7 linked regions of the Homo sapiens genome follow. The protein of the gene in region 3 interacts with the protein of the main gene of each other region in a biochemical or structural test. Each region holds a gene or a part of one and is shown on either strand. Other genes may lie near its edges. The genes, in order: SDCBP, PITX1, SMARCA2, RAP1A, MECP2, MYB and KHDRBS1.

Evidence for each region.
Region 1: the proteins of SMARCA2 (region 3) and SDCBP interact in a surface display test, tested with the Homo sapiens proteins (one study listed by IntAct).
Region 2: the proteins of SMARCA2 (region 3) and PITX1 form a complex in vitro, tested with the Homo sapiens proteins (one study listed by BioGRID).
Region 4: the proteins of SMARCA2 (region 3) and RAP1A form a complex in vitro, tested with the Homo sapiens proteins (one study listed by BioGRID).
Region 5: the proteins of SMARCA2 (region 3) and MECP2 form a complex in vitro, tested with the Homo sapiens proteins (one study listed by BioGRID).
Region 6: the proteins of SMARCA2 (region 3) and MYB form a complex in vitro, tested with the Homo sapiens proteins (one study listed by BioGRID).
Region 7: the proteins of SMARCA2 (region 3) and KHDRBS1 form a complex in vitro, tested with the Homo sapiens proteins (one study listed by BioGRID).

The regions. Positions count from the first base shown.
Region 1 is NC_000008.11:58,566,761-58,570,260, reverse strand, and holds part of SDCBP (syntenin-1), read right to left. Parts: intron 1-3,500. UniProt on the Homo sapiens protein: Multifunctional adapter protein involved in diverse array of functions including trafficking of transmembrane proteins, neuro and immunomodulation, exosome biogenesis, and tumorigenesis.
Region 2 is NC_000005.10:135,027,234-135,031,228, forward strand, and holds the end of PITX1 (pituitary homeobox 1), read right to left. Parts: intron 2,089-3,995; coding exon 1,546-2,088; 3' UTR 501-1,545; downstream 1-500. UniProt on the Homo sapiens protein: Sequence-specific transcription factor that binds gene promoters and activates their transcription. May play a role in the development of anterior structures, and in particular, the brain and facies and in specifying the identity or structure of hindlimb.
Region 3 is NC_000009.12:2,081,347-2,084,846, reverse strand, and holds part of SMARCA2 (SWI/SNF-related matrix-associated actin-dependent regulator of chromatin subfamily A member 2), read right to left. Parts: intron 3,016-3,500; coding exon 2,852-3,015; intron 1,501-2,851; coding exon 1,434-1,500; intron 762-1,433; coding exon 651-761; intron 1-650. UniProt on the Homo sapiens protein: ATPase involved in transcriptional activation and repression of select genes by chromatin remodeling (alteration of DNA-nucleosome topology).
Region 4 is NC_000001.11:111,703,289-111,706,788, reverse strand, and holds part of RAP1A (ras-related protein Rap-1A precursor), read right to left. Parts: intron 3,454-3,500; coding exon 3,313-3,453; intron 2,447-3,312; coding exon 2,303-2,446; intron 1-2,302. UniProt on the Homo sapiens protein: Counteracts the mitogenic function of Ras, at least partly because it can interact with Ras GAPs and RAF in a competitive manner. Together with ITGB1BP1, regulates KRIT1 localization to microtubules and membranes.
Region 5 is NC_000023.11:154,024,718-154,028,217, forward strand, and holds part of MECP2 (methyl-CpG-binding protein 2), read right to left. Parts: 3' UTR 1-3,500. UniProt on the Homo sapiens protein: Chromosomal protein that binds to methylated DNA. It can bind specifically to a single methyl-CpG pair. It is not influenced by sequences flanking the methyl-CpGs.
Region 6 is NC_000006.12:135,194,808-135,198,307, reverse strand, and holds part of MYB (transcriptional activator Myb), read right to left. Parts: intron 3,349-3,500; exon of another isoform or gene 3,227-3,348; intron 2,561-3,226; coding exon 2,306-2,560; intron 1,583-2,305; exon of another isoform or gene 1,400-1,582; intron 1,348-1,399; coding exon 985-1,347; intron 1-984. UniProt on the Homo sapiens protein: Transcriptional activator; DNA-binding protein that specifically recognize the sequence 5'-YAAC[GT]G-3'. Plays an important role in the control of proliferation and differentiation of hematopoietic progenitor cells.
Region 7 is NC_000001.11:32,023,868-32,027,367, forward strand, and holds part of KHDRBS1 (KH domain-containing, RNA-binding, signal transduction-associated protein 1), read left to right. Parts: intron 1-3,500. UniProt on the Homo sapiens protein: Recruited and tyrosine phosphorylated by several receptor systems, for example the T-cell, leptin and insulin receptors. Once phosphorylated, functions as an adapter protein in signal transduction cascades by binding to SH2 and SH3 domain-containing proteins.

The sequences.
Region 1 (3,500 bases), on a different chromosome or scaffold from region 3:
CACTCTGACACTCTAGCATTTATCAATGCTACTCATGCTCAAGTATCCTCTTCTCAGGGCTGTCTTGATGGCCTACATCATATGAAGTATCTCACTGATGGAAATACTTTATCCTTTACAATTAGATCTGACTTTCTGAAATAGCTATATGTCATTAGAGACAAGTTTGGTAATAAGTTGTATGACCAATCTCTACCAACTTTTTACTTTATTGGAAATGTATCATTTTAAAAATGAAGTTCATAGTAGTATCTCAACCTAGCCCTAAAATCAATGTCAAGAGTATTCCCAAAGATGCTTGGAGATATGAAAGCTTAGTTTAAATAAGTAAAGCCTATGAAAGCTTTGAATGGTACTAAAATTATATGTTCTGATATACTTGTTGAGTCATCCTTTAATATTTATTATTTCATAATTTGTTAAACATTCTAGATTTAAACAAAATACAGCATGAAAATCTTTATAATTATAAATAACAATCCACAAATTGAACATGTGTTGAACTTTGAAAGTTCTTTCACCACCGATTAGCTAAAAGGAGCTAGTGGCTTGTTATATTACTTCTTGAATCATGTCTAACAAAAAAAATACTGTGCGGCACTGGGAAAAAAAAAAGAACTATAAAGACATGAAAAGACATGGAGGAAACTTAAGTGGATATTACTAAGTGAAAGAAGCCAATCTCAAAAGGCTACATACTTTATGATTCCAACTATACGACATTTTGAAAAATGCAAAATTGTGGAGATAATAAAATATTAGGCCAGGCACAGTGGCTGAGGCCTTTAATCCCAGCACTTTGGGAAGCTGAAGCTGGAGAGTTGCTTGAGGCCTGGAGTTCAAGACCAGCCTGGGCAACATAGGAAAACCCTGCCTATGCAAAAAATTGTTTTGGCCAGGCACAGTGGCTCATGCCTGTAATCCCAGCACTTTGGTAGGCTGAGGTGGGCAGATCACCTGAAGTCAGGAGTTCAACTGACCAACATGGCATGTTGTCATGTTTGTCATGGCCAACATGGCAAAACCCTGTCTCTAGTAAACATACAAAAATTAGCCGGGCATGGTGGTGGATGCCTGTTAATTCCAGCTACCCGGGAGGCTGAGGCAGGGAGAATTGCTTGAACCCAGGAGGAGGAGGTTGCAGTGAGCCAAGATCGCACCACTGCACTCCAGCCTGGTGACAGAGCCAGACTCCGTTTTGGGGGAAAAAAAAATTTTCTTTTTAAACTAGCTAGGTGTGGTGGTGCATGCCTGTAGTCCCAGCTACTTAGAAGGCTGTGGCAGGAGGATGGACGCTGCAGTGAACCATGACTGTGCCACTGTACTCCAGCCTGGGCAACAGAGCGACATCCTGACGCTAAAGAAAACACAAAAGCAAAAGCAAATTATTGGTTGCCAGGAGTTTCTAGAAGGGAAGGAAGAACAGGCATTAAAGAATTTTTCGAGCAGTGAACCTATTCTGTCTAATGCTACAATGGTATACAGTCATGTGCTGCCTGTTCTGGTCAATGATGAACCACATATACAATAGTGGTCCCATGAGATTATAAAAGAGCTAAAAAATTCCTACTGTCTAGTGACATCATAGCTGCCGTCACACAGAACAACTCATTACTTTGTGGTGATGGTGGTGTAAATAAGCTTACTGCACTGCCAGTCATATATAAAAAAGTATAGCATCTACAATTATGCATGGTACATAATACTTGATAATAATAAATGACTATGTTACTCATTTATGTATTTCCTGTGTTATACCCTTTAGAGTATATCCTTCTACTTACAAAAAAAGTTAACTGTAAAACAGTCTCAGGCAGGTCCTTCAGGAGGTATTCCAGAAGGCACTATTACCATTGGAAATGACAACTCCATGCATGTTACTGCCTCTGAAGACCTTTCAGTGGGATGATGTGGAGGTGGAAGACAGTGATATTGATGATCCTGACCCTGTGCAGGCCTAGGCTAATGTGAGTGTGTGTCTCAGTTTTTAACAAACTTACAAGCGATTTTTAAAAACTAAAAATTTAAAAAATAGGAAAAAAGCTTATAGAATCAGGATATAAAGAAAGAAAATATTTTATACAGCTGTACAATGTTTGTGTTTTAAACTATGTTATTACAAGAGTCAGAAAGTTAAAAAATTAAAGTTACAGGAAGCTAAGGTTAATTTATAATTCGAGAAAGAAAAATTTTTAAATAAATTTAGTGCAGCCCAAGTATAGAGTATTGATAAAGTCTACAGCAGTATACAATAATGTCCTAGGCCTCACATTCACTCACCGCTCACTCACTGACTTACCCAGCGCAACTTCTAGTCCTGGAAGCTCCATTCATGGTAAGTGCCTTATACAGATGTACCATTTTAAATCTTTTACATTGTATTTTTACCATACCTTTTCTGTGTTTAGATACACAAATACTATTGTGTAACAATTGCCTACAGTATTCAGTACAGTAACATGCAGTATTACTGTATCATACAGGTGGGATCATACAGGTTTGTAGCATAGGAACAACAGACTATACCATACTGCCTAGATGTGTAGTAGGCTATGCCATCTACATTTGTGGAAGTACACTCTATAATGTTTGCACGACAAAACTGTCTAATGAGGCATTTCTCAGAACATATCCGTCTTTAAGCAACACATGACTATATACACGTCACTATACATTTGTCAAAATCCACAGAACATATAACACCAACAGTGAACCCTAATGTGATGTAATGTAAATATGTAGACTTCAGGTGATATTAATGAGCCAGATGTACTGCTCTGGTGCAGATGCTGATACTGGGGGAGGTTGTGCATGTGTGAGGACAGAAGGTATACTGTACTTTCTGATCAATTTTGTTGTGAATCTAAAATTGCTCTAAAACACAGCTTATTAATTTAAAATACTTCTCCTTTGTATGTAGTTATGAATTTCTGTTCTTTCATTGCTATTGTTTTTAATCCAAGGAATACTGAAGAATACATATAGAAAGCTCCCTGCAAAGTTAAATTTAATTATGTTATTTGCAGTAAAAATGAAACAAAAGGATGTAACCCAATTTTAAGTACTGTAAACCATTAAATGTAGCTACTTATTTCAAACTTACTTTGAAATGTGACACTACTAAAAAAAGGGGTTGGGGTGCCCCAAGGAGCATGCCAGGGCCTATTGTTTCTGCCATTAACAGAAAGGATGTGGAAAAAACATGCTTGTAGCGTCACTGCTGCCAAATTCTGCCCACCATATTAGGAAACTGATAAGCTCTGGTTCTGTATATCATTATTTATTAAAAGCTTACTTTGCATAAGTAGAGGAAACCACAGGCTCTTGTCAGGATTTGGAATGGAGAGAAAAAGGTCTAGGGACTGTATGATGCTAAAAGCCACAGCCTAGTGGCTACTGCAGAATAGTTTACAAAATATGAATGGTTGGTTCATTGCTGTAATTTAGCTTTGCTGTGGTGTTAAAGGCCAGCAGATGAGAAAATGAATACTACCTTCCTT
Region 2 (3,995 bases), on a different chromosome or scaffold from region 3:
ATCCAGCCCCCTCAGTCCTCCTGGAATAGCCTGGCCCTGGCTCCGAGGAGAGAAGAGGGGCTGTTGCTGGGCCCACAGAAGAAAAGGCAACCCCAGGCATAAAGAGGCTCTCAGCAGCCCCTGCCCGAACGCTCCTGGCAGGCAAGGGCCCCATAGCACCCTGGGGCCTCGAGGGTCACCGCAGACCCGGCCTGGGAAGAAACCCGTAGAGTCCCGCAGCCGCGGAGGGAGGGGGTTCTCGCTAAGGCGTCCCGCGGACAACGCCGAGAGGCACAGCTTAGCGGGTGCGCACCGGACAGGCTCGCAACGCAGGACGGTGCCCTCATGGGAGCCAGGCTGAGCAGGTCAAGAATGGTGGTGGGGAAGCGGGGTAGGCAGACCTCGGCGGGGGCTGCCTCGGCGCTCTGCTCCTACCCAAGGGGCCCGGTTCCCTTTCTACCCACAGTTCCCTTTCTATCCGCCTCCCTCCTCAGCCCAATGAAGCAGTCGGGGCTCAGCAGTGCTTAGCACGCTCGGACTATGGTTTTAATAGACGTACATGGACAAGTCGATATAGACAGATTTATTACAGTCAGTCCAACATACACAGGGACGCTGTAAACAGGGGCGCGGGCCGGAGAGCGGGTGTGCAAAGTGGGCGCAGGGCCCTGGGGCCGCGCCCCTTGCTCTGCCGGCTCGACTCTTGCACGGCGGGCGGTGAGGAGGGGGCTGTTCGCCCAGACAGAGGGCCACCTCCTAGCCCGGGAGCAGAGCAGAGGGCCTGGGCCTGCAGCTAAGCTCAAGGCTGGGGTGTTCTGAGATGGACCTCCCCCACCTCCCGCCAGGCCCGCACTGCCCGCTGTCGCTCCGTGGCCTTAATATAGGGCTCCGGGGCGCGGGGCCAGCGAGGCTCTACCAGGCGCGCCGGGGCCGTGTGCGGCTCCACTGAGTGCCCGATCCTGGGCTGGGGGCACCGTCCCCCCAAACCCAACGCCCGCCCCAACACGGATCCGACTCGAGCTAAGGCGCTCTCGGCCGGGCCTAGCTCGGAGAGGGCAACTTGGTTTGTACGGGGTCGGGAAATCCTAGGCAAGTCCAGGCCCCGCACATCCAGTCCGCAGGCCCGGCCACTCAGTCCGGATCCAGCGCGGCGGGGACGCGGGATACGAGGTCGTCCTCCCCCGGCCGCTGGGCCTCGGCGCTCGCCTACCGCGCCGCGTGCCCTCCGCGGAGTGGGCCTCCGGGGCCCGTGGGAACACACACACCACCCGCGCCATCCCGAGAGAAATTGCAACTCATCCATTTTTTCGCGGCACTTTTCTCCGACGTCTTTTTGCTTTTTTTTTTTTTTTTTTTTTTTTGTCTTTTTGGAGGGCAGAGTGGGGTCCGGAAAAGCAAACACAAAACCAACCCGGAGTGGGAAGTGGGAGGAGGGGGCTGCGCAGGTGTGAGGTCCGCGGCGCGGTGAGCTGGGGCTTGCGAGCCGGGGCCCCGCGTGCGTCCTCCGCGCCCGCGCCCGCGCCCTTCCCCGCTCCGGCCGCCGGCCCGCGTGGTGCGGCGGGGCGGTCAGCTGTTGTACTGGCACGCGTTGAGGCCCGAGGCCGGGCCCTGCAGGCCGCCGTAGCCAAACGACGAGTGCTGTTTGGACTTGAGCCGCAGGCTGGCTAGGCTCGAGTTGCACGTGTCCCGGTAGACGCTGTAGGGCGAGGCGGGAGTGCCGTACGGGCAAGCGCCCGGCGACATGGCCGAGTTGAGCGAGGAGCCGGTGAGGTTGTTGATGTTGTTGAGGCCCGAGTTGGGCATGCCAGGCACGGCGCCTGGGCCCATGCTGGACGGCATGGTCATGGAGGAGATGGAGCTGGGTGCTGAGAACATGGACTGCGACGACAGCGGGCTCATGGAGTTGAAGAAGGTGAAGCTCTTGGTGGAGAGCGGCGCTGGCGCCAGGCTCTTGGCGGCCCAGTTGTTGTAGGAGTAGCCGGCGGCGTACACGTCCTCGTAGGGCTGCACTAGGCCGCTGAACTGCGGCACGTAGCCACCCTTGCACAGGTCCAGCTGCTGGTTACGCTCGCGCTTACGCCACTTGGCTCGCCGGTTCTTGAACCAGACCTGGGGGAGGGGACGGGAGAAGGGTCAGGGCCGCTGCGGGCCGGGAGGGACCCCACCCCCTTCCCCACCGCCTGGAGCCTTCCGTCGGCCCGCTGCCCTCCGAACGTCGTTTCTCTCCTTCGACCGATATTTCCGCTCCTGCATTCCCTCCACAATGGTTCCTTTCCTGTCCCCAGAAAATACTAATTTCTTTTTCCGATCTTTATCCTCTCCCGAAATTATATCCGTTTTCTTCTCCGAATACGGATTCTCGTTTAACAGATATTCGTTTTCTTTCTTCCTCTCTCAACCAGTTCACCTCTGCCTTCTCCCCCAAACAGGTTCGCTCTATCTACTAAATATTTCAGTCTTTTTATTCTCCCTCAAATACAAAAGGTATTTTTCCTCCCTGAGACATAGGACTTTCCGACTCCCCCAATTCTTCGATCTATTTCATCGCTCAAATAGTTTGTTATCATCTTTATCGGCAATATTTGATGTTTTCTTTTTGGCTCCAAATGTTTATTTTCGTTCAGTCCACCCCACTGTCTGAACCTCTTTCTTCTCCCTCAGTCTGTTTTCTTGTTTATCCCCCATTTTTGATCCTTTTGAATCGTCCTCAAATATTAGGCTTTTGAATCCTTTCCAAATATCTGACCTGCACTGTTCCCCTTAAACAGTTGATTCTTTTTCTCAAATACCTGATCTTTTTGCTTCCTATTTAATTTCTTTCCTGCCGCCTAAATATATGCCAAATATGTTTCTCCACAAATATTTAAATTTTTTCTATTCTTACTAGATTCTTCTAATCTTCCTGCCCTTCCTTTTCTCCCCCCAAATTTGGTAAGAACCTCCTAGTCCTCCCCCATCCTTACCTATCTGCCTACCGCATGCCCTCTGCCCACTCGGATTTTCCTCCAGTTCTGAGTGGAGTTTCCTGAGCTAGTTTGCCAGATCCCTGCTTCTCAGCTTTCCCTAGTCCCCAGCACTGACACTACCTGATTCCACCCCCACCCACCCCTACCACCATAAACCTGGGCAGGATTAGTGAGTTCAGGATTACTGAGTGCTGTGTCTTCATTCCAAGTCCCACTGGGCTGGCCAGCCTGCCTAGGGAGGGGTGAGGGCTGGGGTTATGGTAAGGAGTCTGTGGGCCAGCTGGGATTTTGGTCGACTTGGGAGGTGCTCCCAATATCTGATTAAATATTTACGCCCCCAGGGAAGAAATGATTCTCTTGCTACCCTGGCAGGAAAGCCTTGCTTTTACTGGAAACCAAACGGGTGAGAAGAGGGAGAATGCAGGCTGGTCTTGGGTCTGAGATGGCATATCCTAAAAGGGACTGGGAAGGACATTTGGCTCCCGGAGCCACCCCCCACCTCACCTGACGGGAGACCTTCCGGAAAGGGCAGAAGGCAAAGGGTCCTACTGATGGCTGGGGAGGGTGGAGAATATCTTGAGCTTTTAGAGAATCTGCTTATGAGATGGGACCACTGCTCCAGGAAGTTTTGAGAGCCCCAAACCCAGGCACCTTTCAGGCTTCTCCGAGGCAGCCAGACAGGACCTGCCTTTCCCTTTCGTTTTCGGGATAAGGCCAACAGCTCCCGAGGTCCCCAGCGGCAGGGAATCCACTGCCCAGTCTCTGGCCCAGGGTATCCTGCTAACATCTGAGTGGGTCCTGGGCCCCATAGGGCATGGGGGAGTCCCCTGGGGGCACAGGTCTTTGGGCTGGGGTTGCCTTAGTCCGAGGATCAGGTAGGATGAGGGTCAAAGGGGTTGAAGGTCCGAGGCGCCTGGAGGCCTGGCAGACGCTAGTGGGCCAGGGCCTAAGGTGGGGATCTCCGGTGGAGGGAGGGAGCAGGTCTGAATGGTGGGAGAGTGAAGTTCTGCTTGTGGGTCTAAGCTTTGGAGGGCTGCAGCAGAGGCGGCC
Region 3 (3,500 bases):
TTGTGGCTAAGGAACAACTTAGGACATAAAAATTAGGAGACATGTAAGTCACAGAAACACCTCTTTCTCAGTTTCAAATAAATAGTCACAGAAACAACCTTAAGTAACTCCAACAATGATAGTCTATTATTTCACCAGGAAAAACCTGAAACAAGACTACCACAAAAGCCACGGCTTGGATAAATGTTCATATGGTGGAGACCATATGGAGAGGTGTCTGGCTCATCTTTGGAGAAACAAAGGCACAAGAAGAATGAAGGTACACTGACAATATCTCAGGGCAACAAAAACAATTATTTCTTTCCCGAGAATGTGCAAAGCTGTTAGAGAGAAAAAGAGTTGCAGAAGCAACCAGGTGAATTTTTTTAAGAGATGTAAACTCATCAACTCTGAGGGGATAGACAAGAGCCGCCCCAGGATCAATCATAAACACACACACACACACACACACACACACACACACACACACACACACAGCATGCATGAAATCAAATCCACGACCAAAACATATCAAACTCTGAAAAAATTTTAGAAAAATAAAGAAAAGGACAAGCCATCTAAGGATCCAATTACACTACTGACTTGGGCAATACTTCACATTCCAGTGCAATGGTCCTAATTAGAGAGAAAATAATTTTTTAAAAACATACCTTTGCAAGAATGTGCTTGTCTTTTATAATATACTCATAAGTAGTCAAGAGGACATTGAATTTGCCACTCCGTAGCTGGGGGACAAGGGAGCGACGCATGGCAGGAGTACCCTGAATGGAAAGAAAAAAATACATGCATGATCCTATGGACATATATGTGCATTATTTCTCACTTTTCATAGCTTAATGATGCCCAGACATGTGACTGAAGAATGCACAGACACACATTCTCATAGACTGATCTATTATACACGAGGAAGTTTTGGCTAAATTACACGTCTTGACCCTTTTCAGATCTTTTTTTAGAAAGGTTTTCCCACCAAAGACAGTGGGAGGGCAAAGGGAAATGGAAATGACAGTGAATTTGTGGTAGTAGAGAACCCACCGCTCTGCTGAAAGGCTCCAGTTCTGTTGAGAAAGTACAGCAGGCAGCCCCGGGCATCCGGGTAATTGCCTGACTTTGCAGGAACAGTCAGCACAGTAGCAGCCCACAGCGAGCCAGTCAGCAGCACGCAGAATGTGTGATATTTGTCATTTGTATTACTCTCATCAGAAACCTTGCAATATGATAATTAACAATTTTCTTCTGGATTTCACTATCTGAAAGTAATTATGGTTTATTACAGTAATCTTCTTGGGATGATTAACTCTCACGGTTTAGTACATGATGTACATGACAAAACTTTACAACCAAATACAGTTCACAGATGTGCATATGGAATGAAGAAAATAGGGTCTATTTTTTGCTTTTCCACATTTATATATAAATACAGCATTCCAAACCTTGTAAGAAATCTTCACCACAGAAGGAGCCCATTTGTCAAATTCATATGTCCAGTTAGATAGAGTCCTATGGAACAAAAAAAAAAAACAACAGAAAAAAGACATTTGTATAAAAATCAATGGTTAAAAAGATGTTCTTATTCATGTTCAGGCCTCACCTTGAAAGGGGCTACAGAATATAACATATCTCAACAAGATATTTATTTTAAAGGTGTGGAAATAGGAGATAAGTTCAAAACAAACTGTCACAAAACATGACAAGTTTGTGGTTCATAAAAAAATCTTGTAAGAAAAAAACTAAAGAATACATAAATATAGAGAGCAAAAAACTAAACTGTAATATGATATTAAAAAAGAGCAATTGCCAGAATGATTTTAGGAATCTTCATAAACAGCCATATAGGTTCAGAAAAAAGATGAGTCAGGAAAAAGAAATTATAAAACCACATGAAAACATAAAATAAATCTGTCAAGAGGGAACAGGGGAAGAAATATTGAATGACGTTTTTTAAAGCCCTGAAAGTGTCACTGTATATATGATTCAGAACACGCAAAATATAGATCAAATGCAAAAGATGCCTAAATATTACAGATACAGATAATTCATACAAAAAGGGCTGCAAATAGTCTTCATTAGAAAAAATTCAAAGAAAACACAATAATATTAATAGAATCCTTCTTCTTACTGAAGGTCCAAGTTCATATCAGCATTGAGATCTATAACAAGACCTTGGTGAACAAAACTGCAACCTAACACCCACAGGCAGACACACTGAACTCCCAGGAGGGTGCTTGTGAATCACTGTGCCCTCACTCGGTAGTGCCCACTTAGGACCTTCTAAGAACCACCTAGCAGGTGAGGCACTGGGAACGTAATGGCGAACAGCAAACTCCTGTCCTTACTAAGCAGCAAACTCATTGAAACATAACCTCAGTGCACATACTAAGGTTATTTTAATGCAAAACTCCTAGTTATGATTTTGATTTATGTTCTGCTTTTAAAAGGAAGATTTAAGAATATATCATCTTTTGGAAATGGAATAAGGAAAAAATCAAAGAAATCACACACACACACACACACACACACACACACACACACACACACACCTTTCCCCTTTGTGAGCCACTTAAGGAATAATGATGAGCAAGACTCACTATGCAGTGTTCAGGCTGTGCAGACCTGTAATGCTGATGGCCGATAAAATCACTCGGTCCCGTGCTTAAATAGCCAATCAAACAGGCTAGGATGGGGAGGGGTGGGAAATTAAAACCTAAATCCAGATTACATGCTCTTGGTAATCTGGATTTAGGTTAGTACATGCTACAATTCTGTCTTAAGTAAAAAACAAGGACAAGCTACTAATCGGGCACTCTACAACATACAGAACGATGACTGTGGAATAAATGACTTTACTTACGAAAGGGGAACAATGATGAGATAGGGGCCATTGAGTCTTTTGTGCTCCATCAGATAAGTGATGAGTGCAATGGTCTGTATGGTCTTTCCAAGCCCCATTTCATCGGCTAAGATTCCGTTCAAGTTGTTATTATACAGGGAAACCATCCATTCCAGGCCCTGGAGCTGAAATGAAGAGTAATTGCTTCAATTATCCAAGATCTGCACAGGTAATTAATCCTAATACAACCCAAGTGAGGGTGTGACTTCTTAACTCCTCACTGCTGTATGTTGGGTTTCCCACAGTAGGAAAATGGGGGAAGCACCAATGCAAAAAGAATGTAAAATATGAGCCTGATCATTCTCTCCATGAGTAAGCTTTCTCTCTTCTTGCTTCTTGACAGGTGAGTTTTAAAGCAGCTTTGCCGCTCATCCACACTTAGTATTTCACAGTATGTGACATTCTAGAATTATTATAAATGAAAAAAGCCCAAACCAAAATCTAATCCAACCACTCCAAGAATAAAAAGCCAATGTGAAGGCAGATTTGGCACACAGATCACAGATTATTAAAAACAGCCTTTTCGGTAATATGGGTGAGGTCCCCTCAGTGAAAAGGCGGACTGACCAGGGAGCCAGGGACACTCTGCTGGGACCACAGGAGGACATTT
Region 4 (3,500 bases), on a different chromosome or scaffold from region 3:
ACATTGCCTACCTCACAGCAGCAGATGGTTCAGTGATGAGGGCAAGTTCGAACTATAATATTTGGTTAGAAATGCTGAAAGGCCCCAGCCTAGGTTCTTCCTCATCTCTCTGAACTATAGAAAAATCTAAAGGGAACACAGAATAGAGTTTCTCAATCCCTCTCCCATTCCTAAATTGGGTTGTCTTGATTCCAATTACTATTCCAGCCTCAGCAAAGAACAATTAATTCTTGATTAAGACTACTGTGATTCTGGCATAGCCATATACTACTTTAAGAACGTTGCAAAGTGGTGTGAATAAGAGTTTTTGAAAAATTATATATATATATATATGAATGAATTAGGGGGCTCTTTAGCCAAGCAGTATGTCCTGGTGTCTGTTTTCAAATTTAAGGCCAAGAGGTGAATTTTTGAAAGTATCTCTCTATACTTCAGGCATTCAAAACTCACAAAAAAATTTACAAGGCAAAAGTTGTGTGAGGAACTATTAACTACCAAAGAAATCCTGTAGCTGGATTATTGGGTTATAAAGAGAAAAATATTAAAAGAAACTCAAATTATCTGCTCCATTCTCCCCACTCTCAAGAACTGAGCATAAAGTTTGTATGTTTTCCAAAAAGTAAAGATTCTTGAGATGGCTAATGCATTTCATTTTATGGTTTTTCTATGTTTGTTTTTATAAACCCTCGTTTATAAACTCTCTGCTTTAACAAGACTGCTATGAAAAAGTATCTCTGCTGCATTGGAAACTAATCCAGAGGAAGTTTAATAGCATGTAGGTTCTCACAAACATGTAGTGTACTGTCCTCTGGCTCCCAAAGGGAGAAGTCCTATGCACTGGACTCAGGCCCAACCCAGCCCCACCGGAGCCTGGAGTCTGATGAACTTGGTTGGTGGGTCCCATGGAGGTAAGGACAAGGACAGCAAGGAACCACATCCCGTAAGGCCAATTATCTTGTAGATAGTGACCTCATGTCACTGTTCTGCTAGCCAAACATATTCACAATTTCTAACAAATTCTTTATCAAAATCACTTTTTTTCTTTAATTATTGCTGAAAGACTTGTTCCCCCAGTAGGATGCAAACTTCTTCAGGGCAGGAATAGTGTCTGTCTGAGTGACTGTTACCTGAGGGCCTGACACAGTGCCAGACACACAATAGTCAATAAATATTTGCTGAATAAATACAATTTATAAATTTCTTGTTTTTATGTACTTGTTAAAAATGGTTTCACATAAAAAAACAAGCTTTGGCATTCTTGATTATCTGTAAAATACAGAAGTTGAAGCAAGCTTAATTTTTTTTTACCTGCCAGGTGTTTAAAGTAACCTGGTCATTTTTAAAAGTCAAATAGTCTATAAGCATAATATTAGTCAAGAAAAAGTGGCCAGCAGAACCACAGGCCAGAGAGAATAGCAAAAACAGAGGACTCATAACTTAACCCACTCTCACTCTCACCTATGTAGTTAAGTGATCTGAATTCTGACTGATTACCTGTAATGCTACAAATGGCAAAAGCAACGGCAGGAAAGAAGCCCACTCTGTTGTTTTTATTTTTTTAAAAGGCTTATGTTAAGGTTAACAAAAGCAAGGGAACTATTTAAGGTTGACTGGTGGGGACAGTTGGAAATTGCTCTAAATTTTTAGGGGCCCAGTAAACTAGTAAACTGTTGGCCCTTTACACCCAGGCATGCAGCTTATTTGCTAAGTATTCTTGTCCACAGCTGTTTTCAAGATAGTGGAGTGCTTAACCCAGTGACCCCACCCCCATGCCCCACACAAAAGCCTTGTGCATCAGCTGTATCAGGCCTAAAGGACTGAGTGAATTCCAGGTACATGTCCATACCCACACAGATTACCCACTTATGAGTCATGCACCAAAGGTGAGGTAAGACTCAGAACACAATTCTGTGATATCCATAAAAACATATTATTTTCCAACTTGACTTTACAACCTATTTATATACATTTGGGTAAATAATTATTACAATATAAGGTGATGTAACAATTTTTACACACCACTTTATCGCATATCACTTAGAGGCTTAGCAGGATTTTACACACATTCTTCAATTTTAGCTTCCTCTTTTACAATAAGGTAAATTTAAGTATCCTCATACAGCCATCAAAGTGACCTTATGCAAGCTAAAAAATATAGTTTCCAGGAATTACTTAGTGTTTCCTATAAAATTATGGAATCAAGATTGCTTAAAAGATAAAAATTTTTTCTTAAAAGTCTGGCTGTTAACTTAAAGCAAACTAAAAAGGCACTTGTTTGTGCTGCCCAGCAGTTGTAGGTTACCTCATTAACATTGATCTTTGACTTTGCAGAAGATTCTAAAAAGGCACAGTTACACCACTGTCTTGCTAAATTCTGGCCCTGCTCTTTGCCAACTACTCGCTCATCTTCCAGGTCACATTTATTGCCAACCAAAATCATTGGAACCTGTGGGAAGAAAAAAACGTAAAATGAACAATAACATACTCATTACTTAGCCTTTTAAAAAAATAAATAAGCAATTATCTGCCACCAACTGAAATGCATTAGTTGGGACCGCAAGCTTCATCAAATACTAACGAAAAGTATATGTTGAGGGGAAGAGGCGAAGGAAGAAGGAAGAGACAAAAAAAAAAAAAAAATGGAAGAGATCCTACTACATAGATATGCCAAATTATTTTAAGAATATAATCCTGGCCAGGCACAATGGTTCATGCCTGTAATCCCAGGGAGGCTGAGGTAGGAGGACTGCTTGAGCTCAGGAGCCTGAGACAAGCCTGGGTAACATAGTGAGACCTGGTCTCTACTAAAAAATTCAAAAACAATCAGCCAGGCAGGGTGGCACACACCTGTAGTCCCAACTACTCAGGGGGTTGAGGTGGGAAGATCACTTGAGCCCGGGAGGTAGACTGTGATGTGTGAATTATACCAATGGAATTTTAGAAATAAAAACACACCACTATGGATCTTAATAATGTTCTTTGAACACTGTTTCTGACACAACCATCACCTTTCAAAGCTCAACTCAGGTCCCACTTCTATGAAGTATTCTTTGGCTCCTCTTTTTCCTCTACTGCACTTTTTAACCTATAGCACAATGAGTACTTTATCACATATGTCCTCATTTTCTAAACATCTCACCACATAATTTTGAGGTTAATTTTGAAAGTTAAATTTTTTTCTTTTGGTCACAGGGGCTCTTTCAGGCATGTGGTAGATAGCTTCCAAATCCTCTACTAATAGAGAAAACAGGCACTTTTTTATTTGGCCACAGAGAGATGGCATAACATCTTACAGAGAGAAAAAATACTTACATCTTCCGTGTCCTTAACCCGTAAAATCTGTTCCCTCAGGTCCTGTAAGTCGTTAAACGTGGACTGAGCTGTAATAGAATATACTAGTGCAAAACCTTGGCCGTTCTTCATATACAAATCCCTCATTGCTGTAAATTGCTCCTATGATTTAAAAAATATGCAATTATAAATATATAAATTTCTTGAAT
Region 5 (3,500 bases), on a different chromosome or scaffold from region 3:
ATTTGTCGTTTTTTTTTCTTTTTTTTCTTTTTTTATTTTCCCTTGTCCTATGCTATGGTTATCAGAAATATTGTAATTAAGCAACAGGTATAATTTTAACAGGTCTTTTTTTGTGTGTGTGGAGCCACAAGCAAAATGAGTTTATAATTGTGCAATATACAGATATATATATAAAAATTCAACTGCTTTGTGTGTCTAGTCGGTGCGTTAAATAAAAGGGACAGAAAAACTAAAAGCAAAACTAAAAAGCAAAACAAAAGCCCAGGATAGAGGAGACAAAGCAGGCCTATGCGCACAGTCTATGTGTTACTGGATATAATCAGGGTCACCAGGAAGAACAGCTTTGCCACTTGACACACAAACACTGCGGGGAGAGGGGCTATCAGTGGGCAGGAGCCAAACCTCTTGGCCTTTTCACCTCATCTGCTCTCACTGCTGAGCAGGACCTGATTAAAGGTAGGACAGAATGGGGGTTTGGGGGCAAAGAGATTTCCAAATTCCCCAAATGTTCTTGAATTCAAAGGTAGGATTTCCTCCAGGGTCTGGGCTCTGCCTGTGCACAAGTCGGAGCCCGGAGCGGGAGCTGGGGGTTGTGCTCCCTCCTTGCACTGCCCTCACACCTGCTTCCTTCTGCCTCCTGACAGGGCAGGCAGGGGGCCTTGGGGAGGCAGTGAGAGGCCAGCTCAGAAGGCTCAGCTGATCCGAGGCGAGCAGAGCAGGAGTGGGCAAGGCAGGCTGCCCCTCAGGCAGAAGTGCCTTCCTAGTTCCCTGGGTGTTTTCCTGACACGTCAGCGCTGGGGCAGGCTCTGTCAAGATGAGAAGAGTGGGAAGGAGGGTGGTGCTGGGCCTTCCAGGTCACTGGTGAACGCTCCACCTTCCATACCACTCCCAAAAGACAGGTTCAGAAGCCATGTCCTCAGGTCGGCTACCTCCAGATTCCCCTTGCCTGTAATGCTCACCAGGCATCTCAGGCCAAGTGCTAAGTATTTTTAGATCAGCACTGTTGTAAAAGCTTGCTCGTATTCATTCAAAAACATCGAAATGTAATTTTCTGCCAAATGTTTTCTAGGTTTTCCTTCTAAATTGTTGAGAACTGACTTCAGTGTTCAGCTTTTCCCCTCTAATATGTAATTTTAGACCCTGGGGGAGGCAGTATCCTAACGATTTATAACAAGTAGACTATGCCTTTTCTAAAGATTGATACAATATCTAAAAGAGAAAGACACCAAAATGGAGAGAATCAACAAATCCCGTCAGAGCAGAGAGAAGAGTAGGAAGACCCGGAGGGAGCAGGGCTCTGCCCCCCCACCGGGCAGGTCCTCCAGACCCACTCCATGGTAGGAACTCTAGAAACAGCTGACTCCCTGAAGTCTAGGACACAGGTCCTAGAATCTGCAGGTGTGAACTTGAAACAGGAATCCATTTGGGGCAATGACACAGGCTAAAAATGTATATGCCCAAAGATCTTCTTAAAGAACTGGTACCTGTAACCTCCCCTGGCCCAGTCAGCCCAGAGAGCCTGACTGGAATGCTCTGGAAAAGGAGCTGTGGTTAGACGGGGGACACAGAGTTCTGGCTGTCAGGCTCCACTTGGGCTAAACCAATTCCAGATGGTCCCGCGCAGGGGACTCCGCTCGTATCCCTCTGCTCCCTCCTGGGCTTGAGCCGCTTACTAAGTGATTTAAAATTCAGAGATTCTGTCAGCTAAAGAAACTCCTTTCTCCACCCAACTTGGCAGTTTGTGTCTGGTTATTACCCTCTTTCGCCATCACTGTCACAGCAATGAAAAGCTGGGCAGAGAAGCAGGTGACAATTTGGGGCTGCTCCCTGTCCCAGGTGCACTGTTCATGCTTCGGGCCTGGAATGATGCCACCCAACAGAAGATTGTCTGCACCCGCACTGGCGCTCACGAGTAGCAGCTTCCGCCATCCAGCGAGCTGAGAAGCTGGGGCCGTTGGCTAGTTTGGCACTGATGGATTGGGGGATGTGGCGTTTCTGGGTGTCCCCTGTGTCTTTTGATATGGGAATACAGCATCAACAGAAGGGAGCTGTGCTAGCGCCTGGCTGTGACCAAGTATCTCCAGCTCACTGAGCTGTCAAGACCGGCAATCCCACTGGCTATGACAAGCCCACCAGCAGGCAGGGCCGGGAGGGGTAGACCTGGGGGGAGCTCGACGACATACAGTATTGTCAGGAGAGGAGGTAGTAACTAACAACTGGAACAAGGGTGGGGGAGACTGTGGATGTGGCCTTAATGACCTAGCCCCATGGGTACTGGAAAGCTGTCGGTCAATTCTGCTGTTCACAAATTCACTGAAAGAGGCCCCCATCTTCATAATGTTCAAGTACAGACAAAATTGAAATTGAGGTCACACCCCAAAACTGGGCCGGACACAGCTGGTGAGAATCCTGCAGCTTAAGGCTTTCCCTCCAACCTCCTGTCAACCTGACCCCAAGGCAGGGGCAGCATGAGAGCTGCAGGGCCCCTGCCTGCCAGGGCGATAAACCGCCAAGGCTGCCTGCTGAAAGGCGACTGACTCGTGATGCCTTTGGGAAAGACGAGGGAATGAGGAAGAAAGGGGGAAATAGAGAGAAAACCCTAAGGAGCCTCAGGCCCCACTGGCAGCTCTGGAATAAACTGGAAGGGAAAGAGGCTGGGCAACTGCCTCTTTGAGGGAGCTGCAGGTGGGGCCCGAATGAAATAAAGTGACGCTTGAAATGCTGTGTTCCCAACCACGACTGCCCCATCGGCCCTGAATGAACTGTCATGGGTGACAGGGGGGCCTGGTGGGCCACGCACTCCTCTTACCAGGACCAGATGACGCCCAGGTGACGGGGAAGCAGCTCTGGACAATGATTCCAGAAGCCACATTACATTTGACTAAGTATAATACATAAAAACCCAACTGACCAAAATAAACATCTTCTCAGTGACAACCTGGTCGGATGCTGCGCTCTCGTGGATAAGTGTCCTTTGGTAGTGCCAGGAGTTCGAGGCCACTATGGGGGCAGGAGCCTTCTGTCCTTGGAGGAAGAGTTCTGGAGGACTCACCCTCTCTTCTGACCCCCCTTCCCTTCCTGGGGAAGAGTCAGAAGTGAAGCTGGGGGGGTCATCAGCAGAGCAGGTGGAAGGGATCAGGGATCAGGGATTGGGCTGATGGGAGTTTGGTTGCAGGACTTGCTTTTACAGCATAAGGAAATGGACACATATATGCTAGAAAGTCCAACTATGAGACTCTACAAACAGAACGGGGCAAACTCCCTCACTTCTAACCATTCCAGAAGAGACAAACACGGTTTTTTCTTAAGCTACTGATTGGAACTGTCAACTATGGTTCCTGATCACTAAAGACTGGCAAGGAAGTGCTAGACAGTTTCTATGATGTTTCACTCCTTCATGATTACACCATAGTAAGGAAGCCAGGGACAATAACTGAAATACACAAGACAACACACACTTGACAGTTCATGGCAGCAGCTCACATGGGACATGCCTGTGG
Region 6 (3,500 bases), on a different chromosome or scaffold from region 3:
GGCCTGCAGTTAAAAAAAAGAAAGTTTTTAAAGAAATGGGATCTCGCTATGTTCACCAGGCTGAACTTGAACTCCTGTGCTTAAGCAATCCTCTTGCCTTAGCTTCCCCAGTAGCTAGGACTACAGGCCCATGCCACTATGCCCAGCTAAGAAACCTACTTGTAACTTTGTTTGATTCAGTGTTTCCCAAATGTATATACCTATATCATACCTAAATCTGTTCTTAAAACAAATTCAACAGATACAATTGGAAAAATGTTTTAAAGTGCCAAATTATCTATTAATTTAATTATTTAAATAATTTAGGAACACAAATCTCTGATAAGAATTGTGATTTTCATGCCTTAAAAAAGCTGTATGAAATAAAAATATTCCTTGGCAAAAACTGCACTAGTAAAATAGTATGGCACAACTCAAAAGAGCCAATGTTGAGAAACTGAAATTAAAAATATGTTCTTTTCCTTAAGCATTTGTTTCTCATCCTCTTCCCAAACTCTTCCATTTAAAGATGAATTGGAACCTTTAAATTTTCTAGCTTTAAATTTTCTAGTTGCAACCCAAATGTTATATAAACACAATTTGGTTCCCTCCTCCCCTGGGTCAGTGAATCGCATAAGAATAAATGAACAACGAGGAAGAAATGATGTTAACAATTTTAAAGGGAGGGATCAGATGGGAGAAAAAGAAAGGGACAGAAATGTTAAACTCTAGTGTTGAAGGAAATAAAAGTACGTTTCATGCAACTATCTTTCAAAACCACCCAAAAGTAAAAGAGAGAGAATGATGCCAAAATCAACAGTTAGCCTGCAGACAGCCTAAACTTTGGGAGGCAGTATAACTTAGCAACAGCTAGATTCAACGACAGAATGAAATCAGCAAAGGCAGCAGTAATTAGTCATTTGTTCCGAAGTATTAGTTTCTAGATTATTAAGGCTCAGGTGTCTGTTGAAAATGAGTAACAGCTGTGCAGAAATTGTGTTCTACCTGCGAGGGAGAGAAGGGTAGGCTTTTGACAGGGGAACGCTTGGGAGTTGAACTGCTGACGTCAGCAAATATGAAGGAGCTACAGTCTCCAGTGGCTAAGGGGCTGGCCTGGCCCCGTTTTTTTCGAAGGATGACCAGTGGAATTGTGCTGTGCCTTGCAGGAGGTAAGACCTTGGGTGGGTCAAGTGAACTCTCACTCAACATACGTTTGTTCACCCTTGGGCTAGGTTCTCCTGCAGGTTTAGTCCCATTGCCCTCTCTTTGCTGAAGCTGTAGGGCTTTGCCTGTGTGATGTTGGCTAGGTGAAAAATCTGCTTCTTCAAAGAATTCAAAACTGCTGAGATCACACCATGATGAAGAATCCTGAAACAATGTGGGAGGCACAGAACTTTGAGATAGTGTGTGCCATCATCACCTGAAACAGCACTGAGAGAGAGATGCTCAACGCAAAGCAAACACTAGGCCCGTTGGTTTGGCTTCTTGAGCAACAGCTTCAAGATGAGCAGTTGCTCTATTATACTGCAGTAGAGCAGGGTCTAGTGGGCTGCCTCAAGGCTGGCCCTCTGATGTGCTGCAGGGACCTCCCGACACTCTACATCTGCATGCAATGGAAAGCAAAATGAAGACCTTTTCTAGATGGCATATTACGGCAATGGTCATCTCCTAACCAATGAGTGTGCAATAAATGATTTTTAATCAACTGGGAAAGGAACCAAGTGTTCGCTGAGGAGGTGCTGAATACAAATTTGTTTCACGAAAGATGATTCATCTCAGTGAAGCAATGGGACCAGTAATCAATAATCACCATTTTGTGGAAAGAGCCAGGTATGACCAAGGAGCTGATTATTACTTCAAATACACTAAAAGATTGCTTTCAGCTCTGAGTAAGCCAAATCATTAATGTGCTGTTCAAAAGCAAGACAAAATTCTAGAGAAGCACCATGAAGTAAGCAAAGAAAAAAAAAAGTTAAAAGTAACTCAAACACCATTCCGTTCCCATAATCCAAGCTCTGCTTTATAAGTCATCAATCTGACTATTTTTAAAAATATGACTTTTGAAGGAAAAGTGTGAAAATGTGAAAAAAAACTCTTCCTTCAAAAGTCCTATTTTGTAAGTATTTATAAATACTTTTGTCTCTCTCGGTAGGCTATGAAATCAGATCTTTGAAAAAACATATTCATGAAGATGAAAATCATACTTCTACCTTTACATTAATATATGCTAATAACAGCTTGGCTATAGAAAATGGCAATGATTTAAGAAATGGGTTTTCTAATTTATCTTCCAGAATCGTTAACTTCCCTTCACAATTCTACTTACAGAATCTATAAATTGGAGTGTTTCTGCAAATTCTAAGAGGTTCTTAACATTATCCAGAATGGTGCCCTGGTGGACGATCATGCACCTTGCTGGCGAGGCGCTTTCTTCAGGTAGGGAGCCAGGATCCGCTGGCAGAGATGGAGTGGAGTGGTGTTCTCCCAAACAGGAAACAGGTGCACTGTCTCCATGAGGTCTGGTGTGGTCGGCAATGGTGGTGCTGTGCCACCCGGGGTAGCTGCATGTGTGGTTCTGTGTCTAAGGAAGGGGGAAGGGTGTAGAAATAAAGAGAGGACAGAAGAAAGGGAGAAGGAACTTAGCAATGAAGTTGCACAAGGTATCAGATGCTGTTGGAGGAAAGATAAGAGTAGTTGCATCATCCCAAACTTACGCCTATGAAACAGTTGTCAAGATGTTTCCTTTTATCAATGCAAGACCCTGTTTTTAATAGTGCTAGAGGTTGTACCTATATGATTACCTTGTTATCATTTTGTAAAAATGTCAAATCATAGGTCTATATTTCGAAGTATAATTATCATATTGTCTTAAAATTCCACTTTAATATAATTTGCCAAAGGTCCATAAATGCTTGCTGTGAGTGAAGAACTGAAGAACTGTCCTATTTGCATTCTAACCACAAAAAAGCTAGAGGACTCAGGAGTTAGAGTTGCTTTGATCTACACATATTCTTGTTGCTTCTATCCCTTTCTAATGCTACAGATTGCACTGATGCAGTGAAGCACTGCCAAATCAACGTGGTTAGGAAAGCAGAAGAGCAAATTAACAGAAGTCTCCTTACAGTATGACCACACAACAGGAGAAATTGCAAAACATTAACTAAAGTTAAAAAGTGGTCGAACTAGCATGTGCACATAAACATCTTATTATTTAACAAAAAATAAATTTACCCCTAGGAATACCTACTGGGCATCACTTCTCTTTTATTGTCTTTGTTGGTTAACTATGTATGTTGCAAAGCACAAGGAGCCATCCCAGTTGGCTGCCCAGTCGCTAAAGATGTCAGAATTCAGTAATGGCCCACATAACTTTCACACATGCAAATAAAAGAGAGCAGCTAATGTTATTTATGAAGAGGTTTTATATATAACCTTTTACATGTATATACTGAACATGCATCAAATCATGTCTGAAATTATAAAATATGAAAATATAGGTTAACAAAATAATAGAAAAAAAC
Region 7 (3,500 bases), on a different chromosome or scaffold from region 3:
AATTTTATAAAAGTCAGCTCTTCCTTGCTTAAATAAAGTGTGCCCCCCACAAACACACACTCATCAAGAGACAATAGGAAAAGCATGAAATTAGAAGTTAGAGGCCTGGCGCGGTGGCTCACGCCTGTAATTCCAGCACTTTGGGAGGCCAAGGTGGGTGGATCACCTGAGATCAGGAGTTGAAGACCAGCCTGGCCAACATGGTGAAACCTTTTTTCTACTAAAAATACAAAATTTAGCTGGGCGTGGTGGCAGATGCTTGTAATCCCAGCTACTCAGGAGGCTGAGGTAGGGAGAATTGCTTGAACCTGGGAGGCAGAGGTTGCAGTGAGCTGAGATTGTGCCACTGCACTCCAGCCTGGGCGACAGAGTGAGACTTCGTTTCAAAAAAAAAAAGTCAGAAAAGGCCTAAAGGCCTGAGTTTGGGGGTTTTCTAAAATTTTTTATTAATTTTTTTTTAGAGACAGGGTCTTGTTCTGTCACCCAAGCTGGAATGCAGTGGCGCCCATTATGGCTCACCACAGCCTCCAACTCCTGGGCTCAAGTGATCGTCCTGCCTCAGCCTCTCTAGTAACTGGGACAACAGTTGTACGCCACCACACTGAGCTAATTTAATTTATTTTTTTTTTTTTTAATTTTAGTAAAGATGGGATCTCACTCTGTTGCCCAGGCAGGTCTCAAGTTCCTGGGCTCAAGCAATCCTCCCACCTCGGCCTCCCAAAGTTCTGGGATTATAGATGTGAGCCCCTGTGCCCAGCCAGGCGTGGGTTTTTAATTCTTGTTCTGTTACTTTAACAATTTTATGACCTAGAGATAGTTATTTAACCTCTTTGAGTTTTTGTTGCCTCAGATGTAAGTAACTCAGTTCACTGAGTTATTTTTGAGGATTAATGAGGTAATAGTTCTATGGTATTTGATATATAGTAGGCATCAAATAAATATTCAGCCCTACCTGGGTAAGGTGGCACGCACCTTTAGTCCTAGCTACTGGGGAGGCTGAGGTGGGAGGATCACTTGAGCTCAGGAGTTCGAGGCTGCAGTGAACTATGATGGTGTCACTATGCTTCAGCCTAGGCAGTAGAGAACCCATCTCTTTAAAACAAACAAAAAAAAAGGCGGGGGGAGCATAGTAGGTCACGCCTATAATCCCAGCACTTTGGGAGGCCGAAGTGGAAGGATCATTTGAGCCCAGGAGTTCAAGACCAACCTGGGCAAAATAGGGAGACCCCATCTCTACAAATAAAAAAAATTAGCCAGGCATGGTGGCACGCGCCTATGGTTGCACCTACTGGGGGTGCTGAGGTGGGAGGATCGCCTGAACCCAGGAGGTTGAGGCTACAGTGAGCCATTATTGTGCCACTCATTCCAGCCTGGGTGACAGAGTGAGACCCTATCTCAAAAAAAAAAAAAAAATTCGGCTCCTCCTTTTTTTTTTTTTTTTTTTTTTTTTTGAGACAGAGTCTCGCTCTGTCACCCAGGCTAGAGTGCAGTGGCACGATCTCAGCTCACTGTGACCTCCGCCTCCCGGGTTCAAGCAATTCTTCTGTCTCAGCCTCCCAAACAGTTGGGACTACAGGCACACGCCACCATGCCCAGCTCATTTTTGTACTTTTAATAGAGATGGGGTTTCACTGTATTGGTCAGGCTGGTCTCGAACTCCTGACCTCAGGTGATCCACCCGCCTCAGCCTCCCAAAGTGCTGGAATTACAGGCATGAGCCACAGCGCCTGGCCCCCTCCACCCTTCTTGAAAGCTCGAGTAGCTTCTTAGTCTTCTGCTTGCTTCCTTTTCTTCCCTCTCCCTCTCCCTTCATCCCCTCCCTGCCTCCCTTCCTGCCCCCTCCCTTCTTCCCTCCCTCCCTTCCCTCCTTCCTTCCTCCCTTTCTCCCCTCTCCCCTCCTCTCTCCCTTCGATACCCAAGCTGGAGTGCAGTTGCACAGTCATCATAGTTCACTGCAGCCTTGAACTCTTGGGCTCAAGCGATCTTCCCACCACAGCCTCCTGAGTAGGTAGGATAATAGGCAGGTACCACTACACCCAGCTAATTTAAATATATATATATATTTATTTATTTATTTATTTATTTATTTTTGGTAGAGACAGGGTCTCGCTGTGTTGCCCAAGCTGGTCTCAAGCTCCTGGGCTCAAAGCAGTCATCCTGCTTCAGCCTCCCAAAGCACTGGGATTACAAGCGCATGTGCCACTGTGCCCAACCAGTCCTTTGCTTTGTAGGTTAAAATTCTGATTCTCTTTTCAACCCTCTGTTTTATTTAAATGATCCTTCTCTGAATTCTCTAAAAATGCTTTCCTTTGCTTTTTTGAGACAGGGCCTTACTCTGTCACCCAGGCTGGAATGCAGTGGCATGATCTTGGCTCACTACAGCCTCCAACTGCTTATCCTCCTGCCTCAGCCTCCCAAATAGCTGGGACCACAGGCGCATACCACCATGCCTGACTAATTTGTTATTTTTTATAGAGAAGGGGTCTCACTATGTTGCCCGCTCTGGTCCCAAACTCCTGGGCTCCAGTGATCCTTCTGCCTCAGCTTCCCCAAATGCTGAGATTACAAGTGTGAGCCACCATGCCTGGCCACTGCTATTCTTTAAAAAGTTGTGAAATAATTGGACAGAAGGATTCTAAGATCTGAGTAGTTCAAAAATAGAAGAATCCATGTTATAGAAAGGTCTTATACTATCACACTGGTCTTTAAGAAATGAAAAAATGAAAGGCCTTAAATTCACAGAGTGCATTACATTGCATATAAACACACCTTCTTGTAGGAGTATAGCAGATGAACAGACTTTGAATCGTCTTGCACTGACCAAGGTTTCTGGAAAGTGGTATAAAATACAGCTGAAAGGTCTAACTCAATGGTAGCCCTCGGAAGCACAAAGCGACATAGATAAAATGAAGTATCTAATTTGTTCCACATTCTTTTTTGTTGTTGTGATGGAGTCTTGCCCTATCGCCCAAGCTGGAGTGCAGTGGCGCAATCTGAGCTCACTGCAGCCTCTGCCTCCCGGGTTCCAGCGATTCTCCTCCCTCAGCCTCCTCGGTAGCTGGGATTACAGGTGCACACCACCACGCCTGGCTAATTTTTATATTTTTAGTAGAGACGGGGTTTCCCCATGTTGACCAAGCTGGTCTCGAATTTTTGACCTCAGGTGATCCGCCCACCTCAGCCTCCCAAACTGCTGGGATTACAGGCGTGAGCCAACGCGCCCGGTCTATGTATATATTTTTTTAGTAGAGATGGAGTTTCACCACGTTGGCCAGGCTGGTCTCGAACTCCTGACCTCAGGTGATTTGCCCACCTTGGCCTCCCAACGTGCTGGGATTACAGGCATGAGCCACCTCTCCTGGCCTGTTCCACATTATTAAAAGCTCCTTGGTGATGTTCTCAGATCAGAATTATGGCATCTTTGTTCTTCTAGGACTTTGAGGATTGAATAACTAAGTTTTCCAGTCTGAGAACTTAGAAAGTGGTGTAGTCAGGTACAG